Regions from separate parts of the Homo sapiens genome. Here region 1 is linked to region 2. Evidence: fine-mapped expression QTL. Tissue or cell type: whole blood. Region 2 holds a variant in brackets; the other region holds the start of a gene. All regions are shown on one strand. Distances are from middle to middle.

The links. PIP is the estimated chance that this variant, and not a neighbour inherited with it, causes the effect.
Region 1: it holds the start of SLC39A11, and the variant in region 2 is fine-mapped to the expression of SLC39A11 in whole blood (TOPMed, PIP above 0.99).

The regions. Positions count from the first base shown.
Region 1 is chr17:73,091,271-73,093,951 of GRCh38, reverse strand. It overlaps SLC39A11 (solute carrier family 39 member 11), which reads left to right and starts at 1,264. Exons shown (of 10, transcript NM_139177.4): 1 at 1,264-1,341. RefSeq lists a silencer at 2,104-2,335.
Region 2 is chr17:72,693,590-72,696,270 of GRCh38, reverse strand. All of the region lies in intron 7 of SLC39A11 (solute carrier family 39 member 11), which reads left to right. Among named protein-coding and RNA genes, the nearest start is that of LINC00511, 54 kb to the right of the region's middle. The variant C/A (reference allele first, on the strand shown) is at 1,199.

The DNA.
Region 1 (2,681 bases), 400 kb before region 2:
GGAGTTTTGCTCTGTTGCCCAGGCTGGAGTGCAGTGGCGTGATCTTGGCTCACTGCAAGCTCGGCCTCTCGGGTTCACGCCATTCTCCTGCCTCAGACTCCCGAGTAGCTGGGACTACAGGCGCCTGCCACCACGCCCAGCTAATTTTTTGTATTTTTAGTAGAGACGGGGTTTCACCGTATTAGCCAGGATGGTCTCGATCTCCAGACGTTGTGATCTGCCCGCCTCGGCCTCCCAAAGTGCTGGGATTATAGGCGTGAGCCACAGCGCCCAGCCCAGGCATCTTGTTTCTATCTATTTATTTATTTTGTTTTGTTTTTGGCTAAATCTAGTCAATCCTATCCTCTGGTCTTTTCACAGAAATCCTGCAGATCAAAGCCTTTGACCTAGGGCAGTGCTTTTCAAAGGGTGGTCCCAGGACAGCAGCATCAGCAACTCCTAGCTCAAAACAAGATCTCAGGCCAGGCGCGGTGGCTCATGCCTATAATCCAGCACTTTGGGAGGCCCACACGAGTGGATCATTTGAGGTCAGGGGTTCGAGGCCAGCCTGGGCAACGTGGTGAAACCCCGTCCCTACTAAAAAAAAAAAAAAAAAAAAAAAAAAACAAAAATTAGCGGGGCTTGGCAGCATGCACCTGTGATCCCAGCTACTCGGGAGGCTGAAGCAGGAGAATCGCTTGAACATAGGAGGCAGAGGCTGCAATCACCCGAGATTGGGCCACGGCACTCCAGCCTGGGCGAAAGAGCGAGACTCCATCTCAAAAAAACAAAAGCAAAAACAAAAAAATCCCAAAATGTCAGCCCCACCCAGAATGACGGAACCAGAGCCTCTGGGGGTGCTGGCATTTTGTGTTTGACCCCCTCCAGTGATTCTTTTGAGGGTCATTGACTGGAGAATGATGCCGATGCCATCACATTACCCGCCCCCAGCCTCTCCCGCAACACACACACAGCACATCCTGCTCTGCTGCGCACCCAGTGGCATGGACCTGGCTGCCAAAGGTGTAGAAGCATAAGTAACATCAGGGGTGTTACAAAGGGCTCTTTCCTTGGGTGTTTGTAGCTTCCCTTAGGGCTGCAGTCACTCGCAGACTGCTGGGCTCTTGGCCTCAGGGCTCTGTTCTGCCCGCCCAGATCTGTTCCTGAGCCTGCAGACGGCTGTGAACCAGAGAATCTATTCTTCAGGCGGGAGTTGCCAGTTGCGGCCAAGGGGGCGGGGCCCGGAGGCGGGAGGGCCACGTGTGCGGGAGGGAAGCAGGAAGTGACTGCGGGAGTGGAGCCGGCGAGAGAGTGGCAGCGGGGGCTGATGGAAGTGCAGTGGGGGCTGGAGAGGGCACCCTAGTGAGTTGGCTTTTCTCTCCTTCGGTGCCTTTGGTTGGGCTCGAGGCCCGGGGTCGGAGGCCATCAGGACAAGAGTGTGGGACTTGGAAGGGCAGCCACCTGGAGCTTGGAAGGGGGTACGCCTGGAGAGAGGAGGGGTTTGGAGGAGAAATTGGAGGCTTTGGCAGGTGTCGGGGCGGGGTGGGAGGGTGAGGGGCGGTGGGAAGGAAGTCCCCGGACCCCGGCTATGTCCCTCTCCAGGGTGATCTGGAAGGCAATGACATGCCTTCCTTTTACAGTCCTAACCCAAATCCTCTTCGTTCGTCCCTTCCTAGGCGGTGTGTGGGGGTACCCGGGATTCCTGGGAGCAGAGGCAGCTACAAATCCAGCTGCTCCCAGGCCCCTCCCACTTGCTCTGGCTGTTAGCTGGACCTCTGGAACTTGACTGGGAATCTGGTTAACTTGCAGCAGGTCTGGGTGGGGCGTGACAGTGTGCATTTCTAACTAATTCCCAGGTTGGGTGGTCCGCGGACCACGCTTTGAGTAGCGAGGCATTAGAGAACTTTTCCACAGTCCTCTCCGCCCAGACCTGAATCCTTCTGCTGGATTCCCCCTCGTGGAGTTAGGGCATGTGTGTGCAGCTCCACTAAGGCCCAGCAGCCCTAGTGCTGTTTCCACTTCTGCAACTTCACCAGCCTCTTGAACTGACTCTTGGAAGCGGAACAACAGGTTTAAAAGGGGGAGAAAGGAAATAAAGAAAACAAACCTGTATCAATCAGCCGGGAATGCCCATGTGCTGCTGTGGCAGGTGTGTACAAGTCTACAGGCTGTTGGCATGTTAAAAGTTGGAACGGTCAGAGAATGATTCTCCCTGCTGCTAACGAATCAGGGTTGATGGAATTAATATCCCCATCGTGAGGAATTCTGAGCCCCATTGTGTAAGCTGTGATGGAGATGCTGTGTCCTAAAGTTGTTACTGGTCTGCCGGTTAGAGAAAACTTCTTGTTCTCTTGGGACTCTGCCAGAAACTTTTTCTTCTCTTGAGACTCTGCAGAAAACTTTCTGTTCTTTTGGGACTCTTCTTTGCTCTTGCCAATCCCACATGGGGCAGGAGAACTCATTTTCTAAGCTCTTGGTATTGTAGAAGTTTTACCAGTTTTATTTATTTATTTATTTTTATTTTTTTTTGAGACAGAGCCTTGCTCTGTCACCCGGACTGGAGTGCAGTGGCGCGATCTCGGCTCACTGCAACCTCCGCCTCCCGGGTTCAAGCGATTACTCCTGCCTCAGCCTCCCGAGTAGCTGGGACTACAGGCACTGGGACTACAGGCACACACCACGACGCCCAAGTAATTTTTGTG
Region 2 (2,681 bases):
GGAGCCAGGTGGGGACTCAGGCTTTGCCATGCTTTCCGATCTCCACCTTGGACCGCAACTGAAATGCCAACTCCTGCCTTCCCCTCCCCCTGCCCCATGACTCCCAATCCCACCTGTTTCCTTCCGAGATCTTCACAAGCTGTAATTATATACACTTTTTTCCTCGCTTAATTATTGTCTGTCTCTCCTTGCAGACTCTTTGCCCCATAGCGGGGTCTGTTTCACCACGCCCAGCATCCAGGTGTGGTGGTGCCTGCCCCTGCATTAGTCTCCTGTGGCTGCCTAACAAATTACCACAAACTGGGTGGCTTAGAACAGCAGAAGTTGATTCTCTCACACTTCCCAAGGACAGAAGTTGGAAATCAAGGTGCCAGCAGATAGCTGTGCTCTCTGCAGGCTCTGGAAGGAGGACCCTTCCTTGCTGCTTTCCAGCTCCTGGTGGCTGCAGGCATCCTTTGGCTGGTGGCCGCATCATTCCGGTCTCTGTCTCTGCCTTCACTTCACGCAGCCTTCCTCCTCCTCTCCTCTGTGGGTCTCTCCTCTGGTTGTCTTTTCTAAGGACACTCGTCATTGAATTCAGGGCCCACCTAGATAATCTAGAATGATCTTATCTCTACCTCCTGAAGTTAATTACATCCACAAAGACCCTTTTTTTTGTAAATAAATCATATTCCTAGGTTCTAGGACATGGCTATCTTTTGGGGACTACCATGCAACCCTCTGCACCCTCTTCTGTGTGAGATTTCTCCCAAAGGAAAGAAGTTTTCAGTCTATGGCCATAATGCCCAGTTAGTACTTGGATGGGAGAAATATTCAGCAATAACAGCTTGCCAGGAAGCACCCAGGGGGTGCAGCGCCCTGTTTTAGGCACAGAATCCAGCTGGCTGCAGCCCAGGCAGCTCCTTCCCTCATGGAGCTTATTCCCTGGATGAGCAGATGCATGTGGACATGTCAGGCTGTGGATACTACGTGCCGGGAAGAAAAACTCAAGCCAGGAATGGCTCAAAACTCCTGAGAACATGATAGGGAGGAGTGGGGGTAGAGAGGGTTCTGTTTGAGGAGGAGACACTGAGGCAGAGACCCAATCAAGGGAGGGACAGAGGCCTCTGGGAGATGAGGTCAGAGTAACTCAAAACAGACTTCCCGTTTCTACCCTTCTTGGCATTTCTGACCTTTGTGTACCCCATTCCCTTGATTT[C/A]CAAAGAGAACCAAGGAACTGCATACCAGCAGAAAGAAAGGGGCAGCTGCTTCTTAAAGGGAGGAGATCACAAAAGAAGGGTCAAGGGAAGGTCTATGCTCAACTAAGGGCAGCCATGCCCACAGCACCTGCCTGGCCTCGGTCCAGAAAGATGGAGTGAGAGACAGAGACTCTCCCGGGGAGGAAATATCGTAATGGATGTCCATGGAGGCCACCAGCATCTCCAGTTCACAGAGCCAGGACAGGAGCATCTGCAAGGCAAAGTAGCCTGGGATGACAGTCAGCAGACCCCAGCCCCAGGTCTTCTCTCTGGTGGCCCAGGGTTTGTCAAAGGGAAAATGCTATTTTGGATTGTGGTAGACGGACCCTGAGGGGACCACCCCACCCTGCCCACAAGGTTCCTCCACCTTCGTATTCAAGTTTTGTCCGTCATCTTCTGGCCACCATTCCTTAGCTTGCCGTGGAACCACTGGAGGTGACCCAAAAGGAATTTCCAAACCAGCCCTGCTACAAAACAAGTCCCGCAGTGGTTGGGGCAATGGAGGGGAGCCCCACAGAGCCGCCCTGCAGACAGCTGCACAGTGGCGAGCAGCTGAGATCCGGGTATCGTGATGTCTGAGACCAAGGAGACAGTTCTTCCAAAGTCTCTGAAACAGGAGCCAGAGAAGGAAGCCACGATGGGTACCAGGGCTCGGGGAGGTATCCTAAGGAGCCAATTCTAGCTCTCCTTCCTGAAGTTTAATAAAGAAGAAAATCACATGAGCTCAGAATGAAGCACCATCTTTGGTTTTCATTTACATGTTCCACAGCCCGGTGGCAACCTCACAGTGGATTTTGTGAGACCCCCTTCTCAGGAGTCCCCATGCTCAGCAGAGCCAGCATGAGAGAGGGCTCGGGCCACCCTGCCTCACCCACCGCTGGCTCCACTTCCCCAAGACTGTGTCTGCCAGCCATGCTGCAAGCTGGGAAGCCCAGCACAACCTCCTCTATCTTCCTCCTCTTCTTCCTCTGGGACTCCCTCAGTCCAGCCCCAGACTGAGCAAGGAGAGGACTCTGTCCCCTCGGGAGAGTCAGGGCAGGGAGGTGGGTGCTTTTTCTATAAAGAGCTGGGGGCTGGGCTCGGTGGCTCACCCCTGTGGTCCCGGCACTTTGGGAGGCCGAGGCGGGTGGATCACGAGGTCAGAAATTCGAGACCAGCCTGGCCAACATAGTGAAACCCCGTCTCTACTAAAAACACAAAAAATTAGCCAGGCGTGGTGGTGGGCGCCTGTAATTCCAGCTGCTTGGGAGGCTGAGGCAGGAGAATCGCTTGAATCTGGGAGGCAGAGGTTGGAGTGAGCCGAGATTGCGCCATTGTACTCCAGATTGAGGAGTGGCATGGCCATTTGTCCTCCAGGAAGTTGATTGTGGCAGCTGCGGGCTGCTGTTTCCTTGGCTGTGGGTCTCAGGTGCTGTTGGATTCTGTGCTGCTGAGCGTGCAGCG